Linked DNA regions of Homo sapiens. The protein of the gene in region 4 interacts with the protein of the main gene of each other region in a pairwise test. Each region holds a gene or a part of one and is shown on either strand. Other genes may lie near its edges.

The links.
Region 1: the proteins of NME7 (region 4) and RUBCN interact in binary tests that used the Homo sapiens proteins (3 or more experiments, as listed by UniProt).
Region 2: the proteins of NME7 (region 4) and OFD1 interact in binary tests that used the Homo sapiens proteins (3 or more experiments, as listed by UniProt).
Region 3: the proteins of NME7 (region 4) and CCDC88B interact in binary tests that used the Homo sapiens proteins (3 or more experiments, as listed by UniProt).
Region 5: the proteins of NME7 (region 4) and TNNI2 interact in binary tests that used the Homo sapiens proteins (3 or more experiments, as listed by UniProt).
Region 6: the proteins of NME7 (region 4) and SYCE1 interact in binary tests that used the Homo sapiens proteins (3 or more experiments, as listed by UniProt).
Region 7: the proteins of NME7 (region 4) and CARD10 interact in binary tests that used the Homo sapiens proteins (3 or more experiments, as listed by UniProt).

The regions. Positions count from the first base shown.
Region 1 is NC_000003.12:197,702,140-197,706,039, forward strand, and holds part of RUBCN (run domain Beclin-1-interacting and cysteine-rich domain-containing protein), read right to left. Parts: intron 3,037-3,900; coding exon 2,953-3,036; intron 2,563-2,952; coding exon 2,403-2,562; intron 1,516-2,402; coding exon 1,409-1,515; intron 1-1,408.
Region 2 is NC_000023.11:13,737,514-13,741,413, reverse strand, and holds part of OFD1 (centriole and centriolar satellite protein OFD1), read right to left. Parts: intron 2,569-3,900; coding exon 2,500-2,568; intron 2,413-2,499; coding exon 2,382-2,412; intron 2,371-2,381; exon of another isoform or gene 1,201-2,370; intron 1-1,200. UniProt on the Homo sapiens protein: Component of the centrioles controlling mother and daughter centrioles length. Recruits to the centriole IFT88 and centriole distal appendage-specific proteins including CEP164. Involved in the biogenesis of the cilium, a centriole-associated function.
Region 3 is NC_000011.10:64,346,577-64,350,476, reverse strand, and holds part of CCDC88B (coiled-coil domain-containing protein 88B), read right to left. Parts: intron 1,147-3,900; coding exon 1,019-1,146; intron 927-1,018; coding exon 809-926; intron 1-808. UniProt on the Homo sapiens protein: Acts as a positive regulator of T-cell maturation and inflammatory function.
Region 4 is NC_000001.11:169,361,298-169,365,197, reverse strand, and holds part of NME7 (nucleoside diphosphate kinase homolog 7), read left to right. Parts: intron 1-3,900. UniProt on the Homo sapiens protein: Possesses an intrinsic kinase activity. Displays 3'-5' exonuclease activity with a preference for single-stranded DNA. Does not seem to have nucleoside diphosphate kinase activity.
Region 5 is NC_000011.10:1,837,540-1,842,072, forward strand, and holds TNNI2 (troponin I, fast skeletal muscle), read left to right. Parts: upstream 1-1,441; 5' UTR 1,442-1,494; intron 1,495-1,929; exon of another isoform or gene 1,930-1,988; intron 1,989-2,135; 5' UTR 2,136-2,157; coding exon 2,158-2,165; intron 2,166-2,309; coding exon 2,310-2,316; intron 2,317-2,667; exon of another isoform or gene 2,668-2,684; coding exon of another isoform or gene 2,685-2,699; intron 2,700-2,863; coding exon 2,864-2,905; intron 2,906-2,988; coding exon 2,989-3,117; intron 3,118-3,279; coding exon 3,280-3,369; intron 3,370-3,491; coding exon 3,492-3,668; intron 3,669-3,916; coding exon 3,917-4,012; 3' UTR 4,013-4,139; downstream 4,140-4,533. UniProt on the Homo sapiens protein: Troponin I is the inhibitory subunit of troponin, the thin filament regulatory complex which confers calcium-sensitivity to striated muscle actomyosin ATPase activity.
Region 6 is NC_000010.11:133,555,520-133,559,419, reverse strand, and holds part of SYCE1 (synaptonemal complex central element protein 1), read left to right. Parts: intron 1-59; coding exon 60-119; intron 120-468; coding exon 469-543; intron 544-1,205; coding exon 1,206-1,253; intron 1,254-1,501; coding exon 1,502-1,556; intron 1,557-2,263; coding exon 2,264-2,353; intron 2,354-2,597; coding exon 2,598-2,661; intron 2,662-3,372; coding exon 3,373-3,439; intron 3,440-3,516; coding exon 3,517-3,640; intron 3,641-3,712; coding exon 3,713-3,823; intron 3,824-3,900. UniProt on the Homo sapiens protein: Major component of the transverse central element of synaptonemal complexes (SCS), formed between homologous chromosomes during meiotic prophase. Requires SYCP1 in order to be incorporated into the central element.
Region 7 is NC_000022.11:37,505,788-37,509,687, forward strand, and holds part of CARD10 (caspase recruitment domain-containing protein 10), read right to left. Parts: intron 2,896-3,900; coding exon 2,740-2,895; intron 2,168-2,739; coding exon 2,042-2,167; intron 597-2,041; coding exon 405-596; intron 1-404. UniProt on the Homo sapiens protein: Scaffold protein that plays an important role in mediating the activation of NF-kappa-B via BCL10 or EGFR.

The DNA.
Region 1 (3,900 bases), on a different chromosome or scaffold from region 4:
CAGAAGTCAGACAGACTAGGGTTCAAATCCAGGCCCTGACACTTATCAGCTATTTGATCCAAACTTTGGACCACGTATCTACTCTGTGCCTCAGCAGCCTCCTTTATAAAATGAGATCAATGCCCACTTCACAGGGTTATGAAGAGTCAATGACATGATACATTTATCATACATAGCACCGTGCCTGGCACATACAAAGTATTAAATGGATAGTAACCAACAATCAAAATTAAACGAATCAGGCCGGGCACAGTGCCTCACACCTGTAATCCCAGCACTTTGGGAGGCCAAGGCGGGCAAATCACTTGAGGTCAGGAGATCGAGACCAGCCTGGCCAACATGGTGAAACCCCGTCTCTACTAAAAATACAAAAATTAGCTGGGCGTGGTGGCGTGCACCTGTAATCCCAGCTACTCGGGAGGCTGAGACAGGAGAATCACTTGAACCCGGGAGGCGGAGGCTGCAGTGAGCCAAGATCATGCCACTGCATTCCAGCCCAGCCTGGACAACAAAGTAAAGACTCTGTCTCAAAATAATAATAATGATAATAATTAATTAAAAGAATCTGGAGAGATAGGGGATCTGCTTCTCTAAGAAGTGGGGACTCTGATTCCATTCTAGCTAAGGCACTGACTGGAGTATTAGTGATGGGATAAGTTAATTTTAGGCAACAAATTTTCTTTGTACTATAAAATTTTCTTTACATCAAAGAAAAAAACATGAAAAAACTGACCCCGTGTAACATTAAGCTATGCCAGGTCTGACACTAAACTCTATCCGATTCAAAACCATCCCTCTTTTCCCCAGATCTTTGTCAAGGCTTGGTATCCTTTGTCAAAAGATACCACAGGTTTAACAAAATCTACCTCCCCACTCCCCAGCTTAGGTCTACTAAGCACACGACCTAAGCCTAGACTTTCTACTTCAATAGGTACTTAACAGTACCTCCCCTCCTCCAAGCATTTTAAATGAAAGCTGGCCGGGCGCGGTGGCTCAGGCCTCTAATCCCAGCACTTTGGGAGGCCGAGGCGGGAGGATCACGAGGTCAGGAGATCGAGACCGTCCTGGCCAACATGGTGAAACTCTGTCTCTGCTAAAAATACAAAAAAATAGCTGGGTGTGGTGGCGGGCGCCTGTAATCCCAGCTACTCGGGAGGCTGAGGCACAAGAATCGCCTGAACCCAGGAGATAGAGGTTGCAGTGAGCTGAGATTGCACCACTGCACTCCAGCCTGGGAAACAGAGCGAGACTCTGTCTCAAAAAAAAAAAAAAAAAAAAAAAAAAAAAAAAAAATGCAAGCCTTTCAGCTCACAAAAATGGCTAAGTGAAAAAGTTTGCTGTAGAGGGCTACATCCTGCTGAGCTCCAGGGACCCAGCATAGACGTGGATAATTCCTTGTCCCCTGTACCATGGACGCATCGATCTGAGCCAGGAGGCGGGGGTTGTTCTGTTCCACTGCTTCCAGGCACTGCAGCATGGCCGTGACATGAGCGTCACTTAGCAGGAAGGCAGCATCTGGGGAGAGAAAAGCTGCCACAGTGATAGAGCCCATCAGGGAGGCCTTGAGAGAAGCTTGAGGAAGCAGAAAGGGAGAGGTAAGGATGAATGAGGAGGAGGGTGAAGGCAGATCAGAAACAAAGTAGAGGAGAAGCTGAAGAACGCGAGGTGCAGCAAAATGGCCAGGGCAAGAGGCTTCAACGTCAGAAAAATCCAGATTTGAATCCTGGCTCTGAGTGACTTTGGCCAAGTCGCCTAACCTCCTGGAGCCCTGTGGATTGGAAACAGTAGCACCAATGCCCAACTCTCGGGGCTGCTGTGAAGATACTGGACAGCAGTGACGGGCACACAGGAAACTCGTGGTAAATGGTGGCTATTCTTACGGTTTGTGTGTGTGGCCGTAGGGGACGACCTTAACATAAAGCTGGATTGTGTCTTACTTGGGAGGTGAGAGGTAAGTCTGGATATATGTTTCTGAGTAGAATCCCTATGGCATCAAGTGAAAAACAGGAGGCCCTGCCGGGCACGGTAGTCACGCCTGTAATCCCAGCACTTTGGGAGGCCAAAGCGGGCAGATCACCTGAGGTTGGGAGTTCGAGACCTGCCTGACCAACATGGAGAAACCCCATTTCTACTAAAATTACAAAATTAGCTGGGCATGGTGGCACATGCCTGTAATCCCAGCTACTCAGGAGGCTGAGCCGGGAGAATTGCTTGAACCCAGGAGGCGGAGGTTGCAGTGAGCCGAGATCACGCCATTGCACTCCAGCCTGGGTGACAAGAGCGTAAGTCCATCTCAAAGAAAAAAAGAAAAATAGGAGGCCCTGGTACCAGAGGGGTAGAGGATAGTGAGGTGGGTGACAACGAGGAAGCACAGATGACAGTCCTAAGTGGCCTCTACCTACCTGTGTAGAATTTTCTGATATACTGTCTATCCCCGAGCAGGGGCCGGAGCTGGGCTGAGAGGCAGTGGTACTGCAGGCTGTGCTGCAGCCACAGCTCGGCAACAGCACGTTCACTGGCACCATCAGCACTGCTCTGGTCGTTCTCGTGCACGCTGATGAACTGGGAAGCAAAGGGGCATGAGTCAAAACACACATCCTGGTAGATACGGCAAGATTGAGGCCTAATGACCTGAGAACTAAATTGAGACAGGTAAGGGAAATGCTTTGAAAGGCTTCACCCTGGGTCCCATGTAGGCAGGCTTTTTTGAAAATAGCAAAACTTTTTTTCCCTTCCCCAGAGGAGAAAAAGTGGCCTGGACCAATGGGTTTGCATGTTTTTTTTTTTTAAGCAAATAAAGTCAGTCCCTACAGGGATAATTAATTTCCTTTCCTCAGCTGATAGGCAACTGGACATATTCCCTCCTTGGAGCCTAGAAGATTCTTCTGACAGAGCCTCAAACAGTGAAGACCCACAGCTCTGCCAGCACAGCCGCTCTGCTCTCACTCTTACCTTCTCCACGTGAAGGGCTGAGTGGGGACTGAGCCACCGGATGTCTTTCACGAACTGCCAGTAATCCGTCTGGCGGCGGCACGCCTGCAAAGGGAACACATACAATGAGCAAATCACGACCATTCTGGACCAGATCTAGTTCTAGGGTTGGCATTCAAAGATAGGAAAAGGACCACAACCTTCCCTTGCCTCATCAAAGGTTCTTAGCAGCAATCAAAGGATACACACAGAGGCCAGGGGTGGTGGCTCACACCTGTAAACCCAGCACTTCAGGAGGACTGCTTGAGTCCAGGTAGACTGGCCCATCTCTACAAACAATTTAAAGCTTACCCCGAGTGGTGGGACATGCCTTAGTCCCAGCTACTCAGGAGGCTGAGGTGGGAGAATCACTTGAACCTGGGAGGTCAAAGCTGCAGTGAGCCATGATTGTGCCACTGCACTCCTGCCCAGGCAACAGAGTGAGACCCTAACTCAGAAAAAAAAAAAAAAAAAAGAAAAGGAATTAAAAAAAAAAAAGGAATACTACACTTGACATATGTTTACCCTTTTAAAGAATAATTGTTAAAGATTATTTTAACCATTCTTTTGAACAGGTAACATATGCATATGACATACAAGGTATACAGTAAAAATAATGTTTTCTTTTTCTTTTTGTTTGAGACAGAGTCACTCTGTCACCCAGGCTGGAGTGCAGTGGCGTGATCCAGCTCACTGCAACCTCCACCTCCCATGCTGAGGCGATTCTCATGCCTCAGCCTCCCGAACAGCTAGAACTACAGGCACATGACATCACGCCTGGCTAATTTTTGTATTTTTAGTAGAGATGGGGTTTTACCATGTTGGCCAGGCTGGTCTCAAACTCCGAGCCTCAAGTGATCTGCCCGCCTTGGGTCACTTGTGTTGGGATTACAGGCATGAGCCACCGTACCCGGCTGAAAATAATGGTTT
Region 2 (3,900 bases), on a different chromosome or scaffold from region 4:
TTAAGTACACAATATCTTCCTACATGTTTTCTGTTACTTAATTAGAAGACACCAATTTTTAAAAAAATTTTATCTTACCAGGAGCTATTTTGTTAGCTAAGAGTTCTATCCAAATTTTGGCACTAGGATGCCTGACCTATCTGCTACTCATAGTTTTTCTGGCTTCCAGAAATTTTACTGGGATGCTAGGTGAAGCTGGTAAGGGCTGTCGGCCAGATGTCTTTCTGAACCAGATGCATTTAAAGAGACTGTGTAAAAACTATTTTTTTTTTTTTGAGACGGAGTCTTGCTCTGTCGCTAGGCTGGAGCGCAGTGGCGTGATCTTGGCTCACTGTAACCTCTGCCTCCTGGGTTCAAGCGATTCCCCTGCCTCAGCCTCCCAAATAGCTGGGACTACAGGTGCACGCCACCAGGCCTGGCTAACTTTTTTTTGTATTTTAGTAGAGACGGGGTTTCACCATGTTGGCCAGGATGGTCTTGCTCTCCCGACCTCGTGATCCGCCCGCCTCAGCCTCCCAAAGTGCTGGGATTACAGGCGTGAGCCACTGCGCCCGGCCATGGAAAAACTACTTTTAAGGATAATGTATCTATAGTAACTACATAGATTTTTTTTTTTTTTTTGAGATGGAGTCCAGCTCTGTCACCCAGGCTGGAGTGCAGTGGCGCTATCTTGGCTCACCGCAACCTTCGCCTCTCTGGTTCAAGCGATTCTCCTGCCTCAGCCTCCCAAGTAGCTGGGATTACAGGCACTCACCACCACGCCTGGCTAATTTTTGTATTTTTAGTAGAGATGGGGTTTCACCATGTTGGCCAGGCTGGTCTTGAACCCCTGACCTCAAGTGATCAGCCAGGTTTGCCCTCCCAAAGTGCTGGGATTACAAGCATGAGCCACCGTGCCTGGCCCATAGATTATTTCTTAATATCCCTTCAAGCCACAAATTTCCTTTTGAAGTAATAGTTAAGCAAAAGATACTAGCTATATACCTCAGAATTATGCTAATATGGTAGTCACTATGCAAGTGTAGCTAATTAAATGTAAATTAAAAATTCAGTTATCCAGTCACACTAGCCACATTTCAAGGCTCAAAAGCCACATGAGGATAGCAGCTACCACATTAAACAGCATAGACACAGACATTTCCATAATCACAGAGAGTCACACTGGACGACACTTAGAGTACAGAATATAGGATCATTTACCATACTGAACTTCAGTAGAGATGGTCTAGTTTGCGGGCAGTCCAGAATATCTTGTGCTCCAATTTATTTATATTCTGCTAACATTACTACCAAGAGACTTGGCGATTAAGTCACAGACTTAATGGCTGGCAGAAAATAAGTATTCAAATGATTAAGTTCTAAATGAATTGGCGAATGAATGGATGAATAAATGAATGTCCTTGTGGGGATGATAGTGCAGGCAACAGACAAAATCCAAGGGTGTACCAACACAAAAGGACTATTACTAACAGATTATTTTAAAAGACCTAAAGAATAACTATGCATCAAAGCCAAGTTGCCAGCTTATGTTCATGCTACAAAGCCCATCATCAAGTCTAACCAATGGCCTGAAACCCACAGTAGTTATGGACTCTATGAATGGCTATTATCAAGGCCAAAATTAAGGCAATTTATTAGGTCTATATAAACATTTTTTTTTTTTTTGAGACGGAGTTTTGCTCTTGTTGCCCAGGCAGGAGTGCAATGGCGTGATCTCAGCTCACCGCAACCTCTGCCTTCCGGGTTCAAGCGATTCTCCTGCCTCAGCCTCCTGAGTAGCTGTGATTACAAGCATGCGCCACTACGCCTAGCTAATTTTTTTGTATTTTTAGTAGAAACGGGGTTTCTCCAGGTTGGTCAGGCTGATCTCGAACTCCCGACCTCAGGTGATCCACCCGCCTCAGCCTCCCAAAGTGCTGGGATTACAGGCATGAGCCACCACGCCCGGCCTGTATAAACATTTAAGAACAAAAGATATATAACACATTACTGAACACAACTCTCATTCTTTAAGGAAATATTAATACATCTAATACCCTACCAATTATACTTGAGAGGGATACCTAGTATACAAAGACACTTGGCCTAAAAGTTATTAGTTTTTTTTTTTTTTTTTTGCAGAAATATTCCCAACAGTGGGTATTTTTACAAACAGTATCTTTCAGCCTGTCTGTAGGGCCTTTGATACTGTCTACAGTTTTTTTAATTGAATATCTAAAAGTTATTACAAAAATGGAAATATAGGGGAAATGACCTGCAGAAATCAAATAATTTAAATCAAATTAAATTTTACTCTTCTCCCTAAAAATTTGCTTCATTCTTTTAGAGGAAAAAGTACATAGAAAACTGTTGCTGTTCTCTACAAAGATGACGGCTCCTACCTTTTTGATTTTCTTTATCAGATCCTGAAACCTGTTAAAAGAAAATATTTCACTTTTATTCAGCTATTCAGTTATAATTAACAAACCAAAGTAGATTACAGAAACTAAGCCATCTTACCAGTGATTTGTAGAGACTGGAAGTAGGGTTGATTTTAATGAGTTGTAATAGATCCTGCATAGTAAATACCTTAAGAAAAAATAGGTTACTAAGTAGACATATTTTTATATCAGTGTTTAAATGATAAATTAGGATATGTTTCTGAATATGAAATTAAGAAACATCCTTCAGATTAAATAAGATTATAACTATGCTAATAAAGCAAATTTCAAGCTCTTTCTTACACTGTTAAATAAATTACTATAAACATATCAAGGTCAAAAGGATAAAATATCTTTATCATCTAATTAACTTCTAAGTACTTCACATCAAAGATGATATGCCTAAATGTTTAATGCCTTACAGATGACACTGAAATATCTGATGAACCAATGACTACATGACTGAGTTCCTGGGTCATTCAATTACAATTTTTTAAAAAGTATTCATTGTTTAAAAATGTAAATAGATTTTTACTGTCCTTAAAACCGTAATTAAAGTGTACTTAAAATATTGTTTAACAGACATTTTGGGTAGCTATTAAAATATATTTCTACTACAGTATATACCATTCACTATGTCTGCTCTGAGAACACTGATATTTGTTTTCAATTGGTTTTCCTTTAAAGTAAATATTCTGCATGGGCATTTTACATTAGTAGAAACCGTTAAGTTGTATGAATAGGATTAATTCCTGCTATATAATTGTATTATTGACTATTACACAATAAGTAAAAGTATAAAGTGATTAGAAAGTTAGAGAATGATGTATCAAAAATGAATTCCAGGCCAGACACGAGGGCTCATGCTTGTTATCCCAGCTCTTTGGGAGATTGAGGTGGGCAGATCACCTGGGGTCAGGATTCGAGACCAGCCTGGCCAACATGGTGAAACCTCCTCTCTACTAAAAATAAAAAAGTTAGCCAGGTGTAGTGGTGGGCACCTGTAATCCCAGCTACTTGGGAGGCTGAGGCAGGAGAATTGCTTGAACACAGGAGGCAGAGGTTGCAGTGAGCCAAGACTGCGCCATTGCACTCCAGACTGGGTAACAGAGCAAGACTCTGTCTCAAAAACATAAATTAATAAATAAATTCCTAATGCTGACAAATAAAATTTGGTTGCTTATGAAGAAATGCAAATTATTTAAGTTTTCATTCAAATACTGTACTAAGCTTGTGTCACTAAAACTTTGGAATATGAAACTTTTGGATAATTACAGAAAACACAAAGAAAGTAAAAACATATGAACACCACCAAGAGTGAAATTTATTTTATTTTTGAGACAGTCTCGCTCTGTCACCCAGGCTGGAGTGCAGTGGCATGATCTCGGCTCACTGCAACCTTCACTGTAAACTATGGCCTCTGGGTGATAATGACATGTCAGGGTAGGCTTATAGATTGTAGCAAATGTACCACCTTGAT
Region 3 (3,900 bases), on a different chromosome or scaffold from region 4:
CAGGATGCTCTCGATCTCCTGACCTCATGATCCATCTGCCTCGGCCTCCCAAAGTGCTGGGATTACAGGCGTGAGCCACCACGCCCGGCCTGATTTTTGTATTTTTAGTAGAGATGGGGTTTCACCATATTGGTCATGCTGGTCTCGAACTCCTGACCTCAGGTGATCCACCTGCCTTGGCCTCCCAAAGTGCTGGGATTACAGGCATGAGCTGCTGTGTGGGGCCTTCTCTAAGCCTCTGTTTCAACCCCACCTTCTCCACAAAACCTTCCCTGATAGACTCGCATGCACCTGCTGGGTATCTTGCTGGGTACCACCCTCCCAAGCCCCTGCATGGCCTCCTCACAGCCCCTGGCACCTAGTTATTGTCACCTGTTTTCTTGCCTCTATCCTGACTGTCCTGTGAGCTCCCTGAGGATGGCAGCCTGGGATTGGGCCCCACCACCACCCCACCCTCCGTGTGGAGCCCGCACACAGCCTGGGTATCAGAAACCATCGCTGGCTTCCTTGATGCCAAACACTGAGCTCCCTAGGCAGTGGAGGACCTCGGGTGAGACAGGCGGAGCAGTCATCCACAGCAGAAGTTCTGTCCATGTGCAGAATGGGGAAAATGAGACCCCAGATAAGTCAACACGGCCACCTGACTCCCAGCACAGTGCTCTCTCCAACAGGCCCCACATGGGGAGTGAGGCAAGTAGCTAGCCAAGAATCCAGAGGCAAGACTAGGAGGACAGATGACCCTGGCATCTGCTCATGGGATGGAGGGCAGGGTGGCATGGCCCCCAGCTCCCAGGCGGGCAGGCATCACCTGGAACAGCTCCTCTTCCAGCTGCAGGGCCCTGGTCTTGAGCTCCATCAGCGCCTCCTCCTTGCTGGTCGCCGCCGCCTGCAGCTCAGCTTCCAGCCGCTGCTCCAAGCCCTGGTACCTGCCAGGAGAATCCTTAGCACCCAGCCCCACCCCACCCTCGCCCCACCACACCCCTGCCTCCCTCATTCTTCCCCTCAGCCCTGTCCCCACCTCTGGTGCTGGCTTTCCTTTTCTCGCAGAAATTCCTGGCGCTCGAGAGCCGCCTGCTCCAGCTCACGCTGCAAATGCTCCAGCCGGTCCCCCAACTCCTTGCCCCGCACCACAGCTTTCTCCAGCTCCTGAGGGCAAGCAGAGCAGGCTCAGGGCAAGGGGGCAGGAGACAGCCGGAGACAGAGGCCTGAGAGTCAAGAGAGCTGCCTTTCTGTCCTTGACCTGCCATCCTGGGCACGTATCATTAAGCCTTTGGGCTCTACTTCCCCATCTATAAAATGGGAGCAAAGCCTGGGGCCCTTGAAATTGGGCATGAAAGAGCTGGGTGTTGTAAGCCTGGCAGGGCATGAGGAAGGCCCCTGGGCTGGGAGTCGGTAGGTGACACATGTTGGGCAAGTGCCGTCACCTCTCTGAGCCCACGGTTCTTCATGTGCGCAGTGAAAGGTGGATGCGCCCGGTGGGCTGCCACCCCAGCCATGTGACAGCGAGACAGCTAGAGAGGCTCAGCAGAGGTGGGTCGGGTGAGAGACCTTGGCTACAGGGAAAAGGCCACGGAGGGCTGGAGGGACAGGAAGTCAGGAGCTGACAGTGGGGGCTGGGGGGGCAGGGGGCGCCAGGATGCTGCCAGCTAGGTGACCTGTGGCCTTTGGCGGTTGGGCTGCACCACTTTGGAAGGAGACGGGAGGCCCATTCTGGCCTGTGTGCCCCAGAGGGAGGGAGACCAAACCATTCTGCCACATGGGGGGCCTGGCAGGATGAAGCTTCGGGGACAGCTGCCCATGACCAGCTGCCAGCCAAATCCTGCCTTGGAAACCAAGCCTACAAGCCTTGCTGCTGAAAACTACCTTCCTGGCTTAATAACTGCACCTAGGCCTTGCCCAAGGGGCACTGCACCTCCTGACACTCTTGGCCACCACCTCTCCCTGAAAAACTACAAGTCCGATGAGGCACTGCTGCCTGGCTGGCTGACAGCCACTAGCGCAAGTACTGGGGTAGGAGGCACGGTGAATAGAACCTCCCGCCCAGCCCCTGCCCTGCCCTCCTCCGGGCCCTGGCCACAGCCCTCCTAGAACCCCCTCCCCCAAGCCTGGGAGGCTTCCCCACCCAGTGGACAACCTGAGACCCCCTGGTTCCCTGACCTCCCCCTGGCCAGCCACCTTCTCCTGCTCCAACCAGGAAATCTCACAAAATTCCCCCTTTGTCCCTAGCTTCCCCCACCCTCTCAGTCCTTGGAGCCGGCTCTTCCAGCCCGCCAGCCCTACCCTCACCTTCACTGCCTACCTGCTGCCATTCCCTCCCATGGAACAGGTCCATTCTAGGTGCCAGGCATTGCCCCAAGCTCCCTACGCTCATTATCTTACAGGATCCTGTGAGGCAGGTACAATTTTTTTTTTTTTTTTTTTTTTTTTGAGACGGAGTCTTGCTCTGTCACCCAGACTGGACTGCAGTGGCGCGATCTTGGCTCACTGCAACCTCTGCCTCCTGGGTTCAAGCAATTCTCCTACCTCAGCCTCCCGAGTAGCTGGGATTACAGGTGCGTGCCACCACACCCGACTAATTTTGTGTTTTTAGTAGAGTTGGGGTTTTGCCATGTTGGCCAGGCTGGTCTCGAACTCCTGACCTCCGGTCATCCGCCCACCTCAGCCTCCCGAAGTGCTGGGATTACAGGTGTGAGCCACTGTGCCCAGCCAAGGCAGGTACAATTTTTATTCCAGTTTTACAAGTGAGAAAACTGAGACTCAGAGAGGTTAAGTAACTTGCCCCAAGCCACACAGCTGGAAAGTAGGCAGGTCGCCCGGCTAGACAGCATCTCAGCCACACCCCACAGAGTGGACCCCAGAGATGGTCTCTCACCTTCCCTCTCACATTCGCCAGAACCCCCTTACCCTGGGCCTGTCTTGCACAACGCCTGACCCCATGTCTACCCAGCAGTGTTCTCCCCACCCCCCATCCTCATAATGGGTCTCTGAGCAAATTACTCTTCCTCCCTGAATTTCAGGGTCCTTGTCTGTACAGAAATGGGACTGGAAACTGCCTGTGCAGGATGACTCAGTTCCTACCTGTGTTGCAATCTCACAGGTCCCCTAGCACTGGGGCCCATTGGCCCAAACACCCTTCCTCGCGCCTTTTCACACGCAGACCTGACCACTTTGCTCACTTTGCCCATTGGGGAGCCTTCAGTGGCTGCCCAATCCCCCATGGCAAAAGCCCTAACCCCTTCCTTAGCTTGGAAGGAAGCTGAAGCCACGCCCAAACACTGGATTGCTAGCTTCGTGGTCACTGCTGTGTGCCCAGAGCCTGGTACAGGGCCTGGCACCAAGAAGATGCCTGTAAACATGTTTAAATGAATAAGTAAAAGTGTGTTGGCCAGGTGCGGTGGCTCACGCCTGTAATCCCAGCACTTTGGGAGGCCGAGGCGGGCAGATCACAAGGTCAAGAGATTGAGACCATCCTGGCCAACATGGTGAAACCCTGTCTCTACTAAAAATTCAAAAAATTAGCTGGGCATGGTGGCATGCACCTGTAGTCCCAGCTACACGAGAGGCTGAGGCAGGAAAATCGCTTGAACCTGGGAGGTGGAGGTTGCAGTGAGCCGAGATCACGCCTCCAGCCTGGTGACAGAGGGAGACTCTGTCTCAAAAAAAGAAAAGAAAAGAAAAGAAAGAAACTAGCCAGGCCAACATGATGAAACCCCATCTCTACTAAAAATACAAAAATTGGCCGGGCGCGGTGGCTCACGCTTGTAATCCCAGCACTTTGGGAGGCCAAGGCGGGTGGATCACGAGGTCAGGAGATCGAGACCATCCTGGCTAACATGGTGAAACCCCGTCTCTACTAAAAACACAAAAAATTAGCCGAGTGCGGGAGCGGGTGCCTGTAGT
Region 4 (3,900 bases):
TTGGTTGGGGATGAATTTATAGGTGTTTCCAAACTGTCTTCCTGTGCTGAGTCAGTTGTCTAGGTGAGAGTCATAGGACTAGTAGAGTCAGTTTCTTGGTATGAGGCATGTATCTGGGTGGCATCAGGAGGTTTGCCAGAATGCAGAAGCCTGGAAAATATCTCAAGACCAATCTTAGGTTTTACAATAGTGATGTTATCTAAAGGAGCAATTGGTGAAGTTACAAATCTTGTGACCTCTGGCTACATGACTTCTGAATAGTAAGAAATTATAGAAAAGCAAGGAACAGTAGCTGGTTATTGCTTACCTATGCCTATATTTTAGCAGATTTTAGGTCCCTCCCATAGTCCTAACCTTGCGGCCTTCTATTAGTCTTACAAGGCTGTTTTAGTCCCTAGAGGGGGTCAGTTTTGGAAGGGACTATTACCATCCTTGCTTCAAAGTTAAACTATAAATTTCTCCCATAGTTAGCTTGCCTATGCCCAGGTATGAGCAAGGGCAGTTAGCTTTGTGAGGTTAGAAGCAATATGGAGTCAGTTAGGTTAGATTTCTCTCACTGTTATAATTTTTGCAAAGGTGGATTCACTTCCAGACCCAGTGTAGGTGTCTTTTCTGTGATGCCTTCCTTCCCTACTCAAAGAGGGTTGAGTCGAGTCAGGTGCGGTGGCATATGTGTGTAGTCCCAGCTATTGAAGAGGCTGAGGTCAGAGGATTGCTTGAGGCCAAGAGTTCAAGGCCAGCCTGAGCAACATAGCGAGACCTTGTCTCTAAAAAAGTATAAATAAATACAAATTTAAAATCTATGCAGATATTCAGAGCTTTCCCCTCCACACTGTGAAATCAAGAAAAAAAGAAAAAGAGGTTGATTGTTCATTCTTTTTGTCACCATTTTATGTAGTATACATCTCTCCTATTGTACTTGCCTCATTCGGTTGAAATTATTTGTTTATAGATCTGTCACTCTTACTAAAATGTGAACTGTTGGAGGAATTCATGCTTATGTTGTTCACAGTATTGCCTAGATCATATTAGGCACTCAAATGTTTGCGGAATGAATACAAAATAAGAAAGAATGCGCTAAGTGGTCTGAGAGAATACAAAGTAATAGGGGGCAAATTGTACAATTGAGTCCCTGCTTCTCAGTCAGAGTCAGAAAAGTTGTCATGAAGAAAATGGAATAGAATTTCAATAGTTAGAATTCTATGACCTGTGCAATGGCATAGGGAGGTAGAAAGTGACATTTGCTCAATACTGTTTTTGGTTTTTGCCTGTCTTACATTATGTTATCAAACTTCCCAGGAATGCTAAGGGCAATGAATGAACTCCTGTTCCCACTCCTCCTGCCGGGATTGCAGGCTGGGGCTCTTTCAAATTAGGTGGTCAATGAAGGCCTCTCTGTGGAAAGAACTTTTATATTGAGACCTGCATAATATAATACAAAGTGCAGTGATCTGGAGGAGTCCAGGCCACGCTAACAACAAGATCAAATACCCTGAGGCAGAAAAGAGATTGGTATATTTTAGGAACTTATGGTTCAATGTAATAAAATAATAGAAACTGGGTGGTGGGATGGTGCAGGGGTGGCTGCAGTAGGGAAAATATGGTGCAAAATACCATGAAATGTGGTTAGGGAGGTAGGCAGAGGCCAGACCACACGTATACGTACAGCAGTGTTTCTCAAACTGTACCTGATGACTCATTACTCAAATTTGTGGTATGTAGCCAGCATTAAAAAGATGACATAAAATAGCAACTTAACATATTCACTACATGTTGTAAGGGTAACGTTCATGAACTTTTGTTTAATTGTATATGTATTGGATGTGTACTGGATTCTGATGTAAAATATATTTCTTACTGTGAGTCCTGATCCACAAAGTTCAAGACACAGGGTACTTTGAATAATATATACTTTATTTGTTTTATCTTATTATTTTATTTTTATTTATTTATTTTTTTTGAGACAGGATATTGCCCTGTCACCCAGCAGGAATGTAGTGGTGAGATCATGGCTCACTGCAGCCTCAACCTCCCAAGTTCAAGTGATCCTCCAGCCTCAGCCTTCCGAGCAGCTAGGATAATAGGTGTGTGCCATGATGCCCAGCTAATTTTTTTTTTTTTTCAGAGACAGGGTCTCACTATGCTGCCCAGCCTGGTCTTGGACCCCTGGGCTCAAGTGATCCTCCCACCTTGGCCTCTCAAAGTGTTGGGATTATGTTTATGTTAGCCACCACGTTCAGCTAATATATAGTTTAAAAGGCAAAATAGTTGAAATCTCAAGGCCTGCAGATATTCTTATTCCTCTTTTGATCTAGTGAAAATGTTCTTGTTGTATGGCAGATACAGCTTTGAATTAACGAAAGCCTAAAATTGGCTAGAGTAAAATTTTCAAGTTTCTTTGTGCATCCAGATCACTCTCCTCCATATTTGCCATCAATCATTTATGAGAAAGAACAGGCCTAAGAAACAGATGTCCCTTCTCTGTGTTCAGTCTAGCCACTGTTGTATGTATTGCAGCAAAGGATTATGGCCTCTCAATAAGCAGCTGAAGATGGAGGTTGTTTGCTCTGTTGGTGAGGCTTCCTGACCACTGCAGTTTATCTAATCAGCTTCTGTCTTCATCTAGTTTGTTATAGTTGAGGCTTCCAAATTCTGGAATCACCTTTATATTGTGAAGCAGAGATAGGGAACCATAGTTTAGCATGTTTCTCATACACCTCATTTAAGATGAAGCGTATGCTGGACTCATCAATTTCTTTTACATATTATAAAGAGGACAGAGAAGGTAATTCTAAGATATATTTGACAAAGATATTAATATTATGTATCTTCTAAAATATAGCATTTATTAGAATATCATTACTCCAGATGAACTGTTAGTGTAATAAAGGACTTTAAAGATTATTAGCTATGTTCCATAAGAACTAATCTAAACCTTTGAAGTAAAATGTCTCAAAGTTGTTTGTTTGTTTATGTATTTATTTATTTTTGAGACACAGTCTCACTCTATCACCCTGGCTGGAGTGCAGTGGTGTGATCTCGGGTCACTGCAACCTCTGCCTCCTGGGTTCAAGCGATTCTCCTGCCTCCACCTTGTGAGTAACTTGGATTACAGGCATGTGCCACCATGCCTGGCTAATTTTTGTGTTTTTAGTGGAGACAGGGTTTCACCATGTTGGCCAGGCTGGTCTCGAGCTCCTGACCTCAAGTGATCCACTTGCCTCGGCTTCCCCAAGTGCTGGGATTACAGGCATGAGTCAAAGTTGTTTTTAACAGAGTTTTCAAAGACAGTTTCATAATTACTGAAGAACAAAATTTTATTCCATGAAATGAAATGCTTTTCAGTTTCCAACTTTATGACGTTTCTCCTAATAGCTTTTCTGGTTTTGTTTTTAGCACCTGCCTTTTTTTTTTTTTAGACAGAGTTTTGTTCTGTCGACCCGGCTGTGGAGTGCAGTGGCGCGATTTCCACTCACTGCAACCTCTGCCTCCTGGGTTCAAGCAATTCTTGTGCCCCAGCCTCCCGAGTAGCTGGGACTACTGGCGCATGCCACCACGCCTGGCTAACTTTTGTATTTTTAGTAGAGACGGGGTTTCGCCATTTTGGCCAGGCTAGTCTCAAACTCCTGATCTCAGGTCATCCGCCTGCCTCGGCCTTCCAAACTGCTGGGATTATAGGCATGAAGCTTGGCACCCAGACAGCATCTGCTTTTTAGTCATCCAGAATTCCTTTTGTTACTTGAATTGCTGATTTGGAAGAATTGCAGTTCCAAAGATCCACAGGATTTTATTTACAAAAAGTGAATCAGAAAGCACAGGGCATAAATTGCAGATATGAAACTCTTAAAAGTTTATTTTCCTATATATTGTATTACAAATGCAGTTTAGAGCCTGTTATAT
Region 5 (4,533 bases), on a different chromosome or scaffold from region 4:
CCTGGAGGGGATGCAGAAATAGGGCCCGGGCCCGCTCACCAGGGTCCCCTGACAAGGACGGGGGAGGGGCTCCTCTCCAGACTCAGCCAGGCCCTGAGGCCTCTGACCGGTCCCTGCTTGACCCTCGGGTAGGGGTGGGGAACCTCCCCGGGGAGCACAGATCTCCCCTCTCCGGGCCGCCTGGGAAGACCGGGGAGGTGGGGGCCAGAGAGTCGGGACCACATGGGATGGGGCGGGCTAGAGCCAGCCCTGTAGGGACAGAGTGGGCAATGGTGTCTGGGGGCTGGTGAGCATGGAGGGAGGACCCCCAACACCTCAGAGACCTGTGCTGCAGGGCCTTCCCTGCATGAGCAGCAGGGGGCAGCAGATGCCTTCGGAAGCCGCTGGGGCCTTTAGGGGCTCAGTCCTGGCCGGATGCCCCTCCCAGTCCCCACACATCTGGGCTGCCTTAGCGGCTGGGGCCTCCACGCTGCTGTCTCCTCTGATCCTCCCCACGGGGCTGCGAAGCCGGCAGGGCTGGGGCCAAGAGCCCCCACTCCGAGAGGGTGCCAAGTCACGGTCCAGGGGACCTCTGCAGGGCGGGGGCCTGGGGGCTGGGGGGGCGATGGCCTCGGGCCTGGGTGAAAAGGGCAATGCCAGGCCTGCCCGGGCAGCCAGGAGGGCCCCAAGCCCCCACGGGTGTGAGAGGCTCCCAATGCAGGTGGCGCCATTCTCCTTAGGTTGAAGGATGTGTTCCAAGTCGCCCGGCAAGGGGACTGCAGCAGGGCGTTCTGGGCAGGCGGGAGGGGCCCAGAGGCACGTGCGGCGTGCCCCTCACTCCTGGTCCTGCTCCCCAGGCAGGAAGATAGCATCACGCAGGGAGGGGGCAGCCCCCAGCCCTCGGCCACTGTGGCAGGGCCCAGAAGGCCACATCTGGAGGTCCAGGCCTCACCCCAGAAGCCAGGCTTGCAGAAGGGGGTCAGGCCTGGGCTGAAGTGGGAAACCCATTGCAGGGGCTGAGCCGGGGAGCTGGCCCCGCAGGGAGAGGCTGTGGCTGTCGCCAGCAAGCAGCCAGGTTGGTGGACTGGACGCTGACCTCGGGTGAGATGGGCTGAGGCGAGGTGTGGATACTCGCAGCTACCCCTCAGCTGACCCGAGCTGTGTGCCCGGCTGAGGCCACAGGCAAAGCCAGGGACACTGTCCTCAGGCTCCTTACGAGAACGACAGAGGCATCTCCAGCGCGTCACCGAGCCCTAAATAGAGTAGCCCAGCCACGGCACCCCCCACCAAGACTTCTTGGACTGGGCGGCAGCACGCGGCCAGGCCAGGCGGCCGGACAGGTGGGGAGGTCTCTGTGGCTCTCCACGCCCCCATTGGTCTGAGGAGGACTCTATGCCCTTTCTGAGCAGGGGCCCAGCCTGGGGGAGGCCATTTATACCCCTCCCCCTGGGCCCACCAGCCCAACTCGCCGCTGCCGGCCTGACCTCGCTCCCAGCCCTGCTGCCCAGATTCTAGGTGAGGCCCAGCCCGGCCCGCCGAGGCCGGGGGACAGGGCGTGGCTCGAGCTGGTTTGAGGGAGGACTTCCTGGGGCGGGGGTCTGGGGGCCTGGGGGATGCCACCAGCAGCCCCCTTTGGGGCCTGCACGGGTCCGGGAGTGAGAAGGAGAGGCTTTGGGGAGGCAGCTGTAGCGAGAGGCAGGTATTAGACACTCCCTGACCACCAGGCTTCACCTCTGGGGACCCTGGAAGGAGAGTTTAGGGGTCAAGAAGCCCCAGAACCTGAGCCCCCAGGCCAAACTGAGGAGGGATTTCTTCCATGCACTTAGGCCCAAAGCCAAAGAGAGAGGGTTAAAAATAACAGCGTCACTCAGGCGGCCACCTGCGCTGGCCCATCCCACCCTCCCTCGGGGACAGCTGCAGCTCCTCAGGCTATGCCTGGGACATTTTGGGAACACTTTCTCCTCTTACTTCTCACCCTGGGGAATTCCAAGACATTGTCCTTGAAGGAGGTGAGAGTAGGGGGAGGAGGTGAGAGTAGGGGGTGGGCGGGAGGGGGCTGTCATCAGGAGCCCTGAACCCCTCACCACCTACCTGATGGGCACAGGCATCACGGTGGCAAGGGCCTGGCCAACACCTCTGTCTTCCTCTCCCCACAGGCTCCAAGCTCAGGACCTCAGGATGGGAGAGTAAGTGGTACCCCTGTACCCCCATACAGTGACCCTGCCCACCTCCTGCCCTGTCCACCCCATCACACACTCCGACCCCGCCAGCCATGGCCCTAACCTCTGTCTTCTCTCCCCGTCCTGCCTGCGTCCTCCCTCCCTGGACAGTGAGGAGGTAAGTAGTTGCTGGGGGCTCAAAACATGACGAGGAGGGGGCTCCCCCAACTCAGCATAGGTCATAGGTCACAGCCTCAAGGCCCTAAGGCCCAGAGAAGATGGCCTGGCCCTCCCCGCTGGCAAAAGTGCCCCACCCACCCACCAAGACGCTGCTGAAAGAGAGGAAGTGGCTGCCCCAAGCCTTCTGGGGCAGGGGAAGTGTGGCTGTGGCCTGGTCACAGGGGAATCACTTCTTCTTTCTGATTCCTGCACTTCCCGCCCCCACCTCACCGGCCGACCTGCCCCCAACTGGCCCTCCTCTCCCCCAGCCTCTGGCCTCCCAGCACCATGTGCCACCTGGCAAAGTGTCACACACCACACAGCACCATGTCCCAGTGCAAGGTCTGGGGCCAGGGAGGCCCAGCCTGCCCATCATGGCCTCAGGAGCCCCCAGGCTCTGCTGGTCCCGGAGCCGGAGCCCCTGACCTGGCCAGGGAGCGTGGAAGGGGGTGGGGGTGCTCCAGGCCTGGAGGCCCTGACTCGACCCCCTGTCCCCTGCCCTGCAGAAGCGGAACAGGGCCATCACGGCCCGCAGGCAGCACCTGAAGGTAGGTGTGGGCTCCCGGGGGGGTGGCCCAGGTGGGTCTGCAGGGGAGCTGGCTGCAGCCCCTCACCGCCTGCCCCACCGCAGAGTGTGATGCTGCAGATAGCGGCCACGGAGCTGGAGAAGGAGGAGAGCCGCCGTGAGGCAGAGAAGCAGAACTACCTGGCGGAGCACTGCCCGCCGCTGCATATCCCGGGCTCCATGTCTGAAGTGCAGGTACCAGCCCCTCCCCGGCCACCCCGCCTCCCCAGCAGCAGGCCTGCCTGCTAACTCAGTTTCCCCACTTGTCAAGAGGGCCAGTGGGGTGGTCAGGGCAGGGGCAGGTGACCGTGGCTGCCAAGTGTCAGGACGGCCGCCCGCCCCCACACCCACCCCTAGGAGCTCTGCAAACAGCTGCACGCCAAGATCGATGCGGCTGAAGAGGAGAAGTACGACATGGAGGTGAGGGTGCAGAAGACCAGCAAGGAGGTGAGTGGTGGCGGCGGGCCGGCGGCAGGCGGGTAGGCGGTGGCCCAGCGGGCAGGCGGGGCGGGCCGGGGAGGCCGAGACCACCGGGACCTCGGGCTCCCACCCGGCTCCCCTGCCCACAGCTGGAGGACATGAACCAGAAGCTATTTGATCTGCGGGGCAAGTTCAAGCGGCCCCCACTGCGGAGGGTGCGCATGTCGGCCGATGCCATGCTCAAGGCCCTGCTGGGCTCGAAGCACAAGGTGTGCATGGACCTGAGGGCCAACCTGAAGCAGGTCAAGAAGGAGGACACAGAGAAGGTGCGTGCCACGGGGGGAGCACCACCACACCTACCCTGCCGGGGAAGCACCTCCCACACCTGCCCCGCCTGGGGACCACCTCCCACACCTGCCCTGCCGGGGGCCCTGTACCACTGCCCCTCCAGGGTGCCATGCAGGGGACACTCCACTGCCCAATGCAGAGGGTAAACTGAGGCTGAAGGTGGTGTGGACCAGGGTGCGTGCATAAGTGGGTGAGCCTGAGCTCTCTCCTGCCCTCTCCTCCACAGGAGCGGGACCTGCGAGACGTGGGTGACTGGAGGAAGAACATCGAGGAGAAGTCTGGCATGGAGGGCCGGAAGAAGATGTTTGAGTCCGAGTCCTAGGCCACTCGCTGCCCCTACGCCTGCCCCGGTGCCCGGCTCCCAGCAGAACATACTAGGGAGATGCACCCAGAGCCTGCCAGGGAGGGCTGGCCTCACCACCACCGTCAATAAAGGATTTGAATCCCCATGGCTGGTCTGGTCTGGCTCTCCCCAGCCTCTTGGGCCATGCTCTGGGCCCCCGCATCGGTGGCCTGCAGTGTGGTCAGTGGCCAGCGGGGAAAGCCTGGGAGGAGGCCACACGGGGCCTGGGATTTCAGGTTGGGAGGGAAGCTGCTTCCAGCAAGGAGGTGAGCCTGGGAAGGCCCCTACAGGGGAATCCACCCCAGGCTGCACGGGGCTGTTTGGTGAGGGCCCTGATAGTGCCCCAGGCGTTCCTGGGGCTCGGCCTGGGCACATCCAACATGCAGGGCTGGGGATGGAGGCTGTGGGACCGAGCCAGGTCTGGGTGGGAGTTCCTGAGATAAGTGGGTCTCACATTTGCACAGCCACGCAAAGGCCCTCCCGGGGCTCCAGAGAGATCC
Region 6 (3,900 bases), on a different chromosome or scaffold from region 4:
GCTGGCAACCGCCCCAACTCTGCCTGCCCTGTCAACTCAACCTCCTTTCCTCCGTGCAGTGGGAAGCCTAGAGCCCCGAGTTGAGGTCCTGATTAACCGGATTAATGAGGTCCAGCAAGGTGAGTTCAGGGGCCTTGGCTGCCAGCTAGGACCAGCTGCATGGTTTGCGGGGCTCAGTGCCAAGTGAGAATGCAGGGTCCCTTGTTCCAAAGTTACTGGTTATTCACAACAGCAACAGCAGAGCCTTAAATTAAGTACAGGGCATTTCAGCATGCGACTGCCATAGTTACATGCCCATGATCCTGGCCCTGCTATCAGCAGAGCCTGGCAAGGAGAGCTGGAAGCCTCGTTTCCTACTCTATAAAATCTAGGCCACTATAGATTTACCTGAAGGCAAATGAGAAATGTCACTGTTGGGAAGAGAATAGAGGCTGCACTCACACAATGTTTTTCTGCTCTTTGGTGAAGCAAAAAAGAAAGCCAATAAAGACCTAGGAGAGGCCCGGACCATCTGTGAGGCCCTGCAGAAGGAACTGGACTCGCGTAAGAGAGCCGGGGGTCACCCAGAGGTCCCCACAGTGTCTTAAGCCTCCCCTAACCCTGTATTCCAGATAATCAGCATCCTTGCCATGGCCAAGGGTCCTGTACCCTCTCTAGCCTCATGTCCTGCCAATCTCCCCCTCTCCTCTCTGCTTGTGGGAGTGTTCAGGAAACACCCTCCAACCTCATTCCCACCTCAGGGCTTTTGCCAGACGCTGTCTGTGCTTCCTCAGATAATACAGGTTCCTCTTTCCTCACATCATCAGCTCTAAGTTAGAATGTCCCCAGACAGGATGACTGGCATTCCCCAATCATCCCATTTAAAGATGGCACCCTGCCTCCATCTGGTCACATGCCCCATCCTATTTGATGTGTTTCTTTATAGCCCTTATCCCACTTCGTGGGTGTTGGTATTTTTTCTCTCCTCCCCATGTAAAAGCACGAGCATCCTCCAGGGCCCTCACAGCCACCCTCTGTAAATGTGAAGGCCCTTTGGTGCTTACAAGGAATGTGGGCACCAGAGGGTAGGGAGGGGCTCACCTCAAGGGTTCACATTTGGGTTGGGGCCAAGGCTGTGCCCAGCTTCCCATGTGACCGTGAGCAAGCCCCATCCCTGAGGGTGCAGTGCATAGTCCCTGATGCCAAAATGTGTCACTGTTTTCTAGTGCATGGAGAGAAAGTACACCTGAAGGAGATCTTGAGCAAAAAACAAGGTATTTGCCGCTCCCCTGTCTCCAGGCTTGTGCCTTTGCCAACCCACAGAAGCCCACTCTCCCTATGGCAGCTGAAGCCTTTTGAAACCTGTCCCAGCTTGCCTCTCTCCTGTGGCTTCCACCAGACATGTAGTAAATGTTAAAGCTCAATCAGGTGTCCACAGACCTGACATGATCTGGCTGTGTTCCCCCTGCCAAAACCCAATACCTTGACAGGTTCTCATAGGGCCCTGTTGCTCTCCCTACAGAGACCCTGAGGATCCTCCGGCTGCATTGCCAGGAAAAGGAAAGTGAGGCACACAGGTAAGAGCTTCCAGCTGAGCCTAACTCTGCACTACCTCTTTATTCTGGTAGAGCAGAAAGAGGCAGGAAGATGAATCTGAGACCCACAGCTCTCATTGTTTCCCTCTAAACAATGGAGAGTCCAAAGAATGTCTTTCCCCTTCGGCTCCAACAGCTGGCAGTAGTGTTAAGGGAAACTCTCTCAATGGCAAGACATTCATTTGCTAAATTGTCAATTAAATTTCTTCAGCTGGTTTTTATTTTTTGCCTTTTACTCTTTGTCATACTCCTTGGATGTCTATTCACTCATCTGTCTGTTCATTTAGGCATTGAGCCAACCATTTGTCCATTCTCTCTCCATTCATCCATTATCTTTTCATCCACCCATCGATTTGTCCATCCATTTCTCCACCTCCTGATTTAGCTCATTTGTTACCAGAGGCCCCAGGCCCTGGCACACTGAGATTTCAGCTCTTTGGGAAAACGAGATGATACTAAGATGTGTGTGCATTTGCTCACTTAACCATGTCCACATTAATCTCTCTTAACCTGACAACAATACTTCCAGGGGGCAAATGGTCATGTCACTCCCTACTTACCACATGTTACAGAGAAGGACCTTAATGTAGAGGGAAAAAATAGCCTCAATAGAGGGAGGCAGAAGCCCCAGCCCAGTGCCCTCCTGGGGCTTAAGAGAACATGGCTGAGGGCTGCCTCGCCTCTCCCAGGAAGCACACCATGTTGCAGGAGTGCAAGGAGAGAATTTCTGCCCTGAACTTGCAGATTGAAGAAGAGAAGAACAAACAGAGACAGCTGAGGTAAACCTTAGCATCTGAGGCAGGGGGTTTGGATGGCCAGTAGTTGGGATATAATGTCAAAGATGGGGGTTAGAAAAGCTGGCTACACTGAGCCATGGAGATTCAAGGTGGTGAAGATGTTCCCAGTGGAGCAGAGACCATGGGCAAAGCACCCCAAAATCTGCCTGAAGAACCACAGACTTGGACAGGCTGTGAAGGTGGTGATTTCAGCCCATATCCCCTCATGCCTGTGGTTGGTTCCCAGGTTGGCATTCGAGGAACAGCTGGAAGATCTGATGGGCCAGCACAAGGACCTCTGGGACTTCCACGTGAGTCCCTCAAAGCCACTCCTCCCCCTTCCACATCTTCCCTAGCAGCACCAGGCCCAAACGGTCACTTCTTCCTCTCACCTGCCACAACCAGTCGCCAAGCAAGCCCTGGTGGTGCTAAGATCGACATTGCCTGAATCCAGTCCCTTGTCACCTCCTTGTGACCCTGCTGCTCAGTGGTCAGGGGGATCTCTGATGAGACCAAGGTCAAGTCTTCCATCACTGTCCGTGGATGTGTCTGGGACCATCACGGGCACAAAGGAGACAACGAGGATAAGCAGCCCGTGTTTGTCCCCCAGGAGGATCCTAGGCACTGAACAAGAAAATAGACAGTGAGTGTCAGGAAGGAAGGGCTCAGTGAGGAGGTCACACCAGGACAGAGGGGAGTGGGGAGGAGCTGCAGAGCTAAACCGGTACCTGATCCTCCAGAAAACAGCCAAGACTCACAGTGCTTGCAGGTTTATCTGTTGTAAATAACAATCCATGAGCATCCCCACTGCAGTACCGCAGAGATGTGGGATGACAGAAGTGCACAGGGAGGGAATGGCCAGTGCCATGGCCCTGAGGCTGTACTGTAGCTGGTGTGCACAGAGGGGCAGAGTTGTTGGAAGTGAGGCATAGTGAGTAAGTATGAAACAAGATCCAGATAGCCTTCTTTGAGGCATGGGGGAAAGCCAAGAGGAGTGGACAGGCCTCTTTTCTGCCCCTCAGATGCCAGAGCGGCTGGCAAAGGAGATTTGTGCCCTGGACAGCAGCAAGGAGCAGCTGCTCAAGGAAGGTGAGACCAGGGAAGGTGGATGGCCCATATCTGACCTCACGTGCCTTCATGTGCTCACCTGCCCCTTTGTGCTGCAGAGAAGCTGGTCAAGGCGACACTGGAAGACGTGAAGCATCAGCTGTGCTCCCTGTGTGGGGCTGAGGGCCCCTCCACCCTTGATGAGGGACTCTTTCTCCGCAGCCAGGAGGCTGCAGCCACAGTGTAAGATGTGGAGGGGAAGAGGGTGGGAGGAGGGAGTGGCCGGTGCTGACCACCCCCTACTGGGCCCCCCAGGCAGCTGTTTCAGGAAGAGCACAGGAAGGCTGAGGAGCTCCTAGCAGCTGCTGCCCAGCGCCACCAGCAGCTGCAGCAGAAGTGCCAACAACAGCAGCAGAAGCGGCAGAGGTGCGTGTGGAGGCCCTGTCCCCGCAACCCCCACCAGGAAGATGACTGATGTTGTATCTCCTCTCTCCACCTTCTGT
Region 7 (3,900 bases), on a different chromosome or scaffold from region 4:
AGAGGATTAGACCAGCTGGTCTCTGAGGGATGCTTAGGCCCATGTTAGTCCTGACTAGCTGGTCTCTGAGGCCCAGGTTTTGCATTCTAACATGCACACAGGCACTCAGGCAGCCAGCCTTCCCCAGTTAAATGCAAAGACCAGCTCCAAACTATTCTTAGTGTCCCAGAAGCAACCCCAGAAACTCAGAGACCAACATGCCCCTCCGCCTGCTCACCAGCCCACACCCAGCCCAGCCTGGGTTCAAGTTCCCGCCCCTAACTGAGGACTCTTCCCACTTCCCCCAAGCTTCCTCCCCTGGCTGAGGTCTCCCACCAGGGCCGGCACGTTCCCAGCCCTGGCCAAGAGCTCCTGCCAGGACCCCAGCCTTCCTGCCAGGACCTCCACAATCTTGACCCGCTCACCTTGAGGCAGGTGCCACCCTGGGCCCGCTGCAGCTGAACCTCCAGCAGAGCCTTGGTGCCCTCCAGGCTGGTGAGCGTTGTCAGCAGCTCATCCCGCTCCGCCTCCAGGCCCCGCACCTGCTTGCGGTACTGGTCCTTCTCGATGAGGCTCTGTGAGTACTGCAACTGGATCCGGTCACGGCTCTGGATGGCCTAGGGTTGGGGGAGGGGAGGCAGCAGCTGAAGGAGCCACCTTGGCCCAGCTTTCCTGGCCTATGACTTGGAGAATGGGGACAGTAAGGAGAATGGCAGCTATCACTTACTGAGCACTGTGTGCCGGGCCCTGAGCTAAATTATCAGCTCATTTAAATATCTTCACACTAACTGGCTAAGTTAGATACTATTAATATCATTATTCTCATTCTGCAGACTGGGGAAACCAAGCCAGGAGCGACAGAGCTGGGATTCAAATCGGGCAGTCCATCTGCAGAATCCAGGCTCTCACCATTTCACCAAGAACTGAAAACTTTTCCACGAGACCTGCTGTGTGCCAGGGGCTTCACTCCCAGCATCCCAGTCAGTGGAGAAGCCAGGAGTCAAACCCAGCCCACTGCATCCACAGTGAAGACCAGGGGCTCCAGAGCTGGGCCCATGGTCCAGACCTGTCACCCATGCCTCAGAGAGAGCCGGGGGCAGCCCCATAAAATGCAGATTCCTGGGGCCCACCCCAGACCACCTGAATCAGAACGTCCAGAGAATGAAGCCCCAAATTTGCACTTTCAAGCTTGCCAGGGGATTCTGAGGGCATTTCTAATATGCAGACTTCGGCTGGGCATGGGAGCTCATGCCTTTGATCCCAGCACTTTGGGAGGCTGAGGCAGGTGGATCAGTTGAGCCCAGGAGTTCAAGACCAGCCTGGTCAATATAGTGAAACCCTGTCTCTACTAAAGATACAAAAATTAGCCAGGAATGGTGGCATGCCTGTAATACCAGCTACTTGGGAGGCTGAGGCAGGAGAATCACTTGAATCTGGGAGGCCTCAGTGAGCTGAGATTGCACCACTGCACTCCAACCTGGGCAACAGAGCTAGATTCAGTCTCAAAAAGTAATAACAACAATAATATACAGACTTCAACTCCTCTAGTGGGATTCACACCTGGTTAAGGACAAAAACCTCCTGCCCTTCCCCGCTGCAGATGGAACCTCACACAAGGAGGCTCGGGGGCCTGGTGGCACTGGCCGGAGGTCCTCAGCCCACCCCACAACCTTGGCAGGAGACAAGGGTCATAGTGCCCAGGGACTGAAAGCCAAAACTTTTGAGAATTTCTTCATCGGCTTCTATTTGTAAGCACTCCCTCTGTGCTGGCCTTGTCTTTGAGATGGACAGAACAAGGGATTCAAAAATGAAGACACCAGGACCAGCTTCTGTAACTGCCACAGGAGCTCAGATGAGGCCAGTGGGTCCAGGGTGTAAGGCTGGTATCTCAAGGGCTCCAGGTCTCCTGTCTGGTTCCCCCAGCCTTTGTGCCCCGTCCTAACCCAACAGGGAGCGGCTAACGTCTCTTTCTACCATTCTAGTCCCCTCCATTGCTCCTTGTCTCCTCCCATATGGGAAGCAGCAACTGGCCCAGGGCCTCGTACACGCAGGCTGGGCTCACCTGGTCTCGCTCCTTCTCAATCTCCTCCAGTTGGGCCAGGACAGTGGCCATGCGGTGCTTGTACAGGTCACAGTCCTTCTGCAGCGTGCGGTGCTTGAGCCGCAGGTCTTCCATCTCCTGCAGGTACTGAGGGTGGCACGGGGCGGGGTCAGACCACAGGGCTGGGGACCATGAGAAAGCTAACCAGCAGGTGCCCAGGAGGGCCAGTGAGAGACGCTCACCAACAGTCTGAGACCCAATAACAAGTCCCCTCCTGCCCAGTGGAGTGGTCTGAGCCACTGACTTTACCTCACAGGCCCTCAACTGCCTAATCTGTAAAACGAGAAGAATGATCATCATTTCACCCATCCGGCCACCCTTGGCCTCCCCACTCAAACTGCAACCGGCCCCTTCCCCAGCTCTGCATCTCCCACGGTGCTCATCGCCTTTGACTACATGAAATAGCTGACGTGGGACTGTGTATCTCACATACTGCCAGTCTCCCCTGCTGGAGTTCCCCCTCAAGGAAAAGGCACCTTTGTTTTGCTCACTGCGGCATCTCAAGCGCCTAGAAGGGTGCCTCCGTCAACATCTGAGAACAAATGAATGCAGTTCTCAGCGCGGCGCCTGCGTCAAGCAGATGCTCAGGGAAGGCGTGAGCACACAGGCCCTGCCTGACACCCTCCCGCACAAGGGGCAGGGCACGGGCAGGGCCCCACCTGGTCGCGCAGCTCCTCGGCCCACTGCAGCTCCCCCTGCACGGCATGCAGCTTCTGGCACAGCTCCTGCCTGCTGTCCTGCGCCTCCCGCCAGTCATGCTCTAGGATGTCCAGCAGGATGCGCTCGGAGCCCGGGGCCCCCGGCCGGCTCGCCTCCTGGGGATCACAGGGCAGGGCCACCTCAGGGTCTGGCTAGGGGCCCACCCTGGGTGTGGGAAGGAAGGGGACACGCAGCTCTCAGCCCTCCAAACCCACCTGACCAGCTCTGCCATGCTGGCCCGGGGCCTCGACCCTCTCTGGATCTCTGTCTCCCCATCGGCAGAGTGGGTGTGGCCCCACAAGCCCTACCCACCCTCCAGGGAGTATCTGGGGTACAAGTAAGCTAATAAGCTAAGTGGAGAAGGGTGTGACTGGACAAGTTCACCCAGGATTATTCCTAAACAAGCACCAGGCACACACTCGTGCTCTGGCCCTCACCCACCATCCAGGGCAGCAGACGGAGGCCATTCCCAAGACCTACTCCCACCCCCATGACTAGGGGTCTTCAAGGGGCTGAGCCTGGCCCATACAGGTAGACCCTGGGCCCAAGATCTTGCCCCCAGACCCACACCCCAGCCAAGTGCCCCAACCCCATGAAACACACTGGCTCTCATCCCCCACTTCCTGTGTGGAACAATGGCCAGGAGGCAGGCCCATGCAGCTGCTGACCTGCCACTGACCTGCCGCAGGACACTAAGCAAGCCCTAGGGCCCCCAGGCCACACCCTCTACAAATCAAATTAAAGCTGGGGCCCTTTCCCCAGAAAAATGCTCACACTCAAAATCAGGGGGGCAGTTTTAGGGAGTTTGAGGACCTTCTGGAGGCTGCTCACACACCCTAGACCAGACAACCAGGGACAGCCACGTGCTAAGGGCCCTCAGCTCAGAGCTTCAGGCAAGAGGCTACCGGGACTCCATCCAGATCTCAGATCCCTGGTTCTGAAATCCTCAGCTTCCCAGGCCTTGGGAGGATAAGCAAACAGCAAGAGGGCCTGTTTTCCGGGTCTGACCCCCACCCCCACTCCATGTCCACGAGCCCTGGCCCTAGTACCTGCTGCAGGCCCTCCTGACCTCCCCGCAGCCTGTGCCCATGAACGCTGGCCCTGGTACCTGCTGCAGGCCC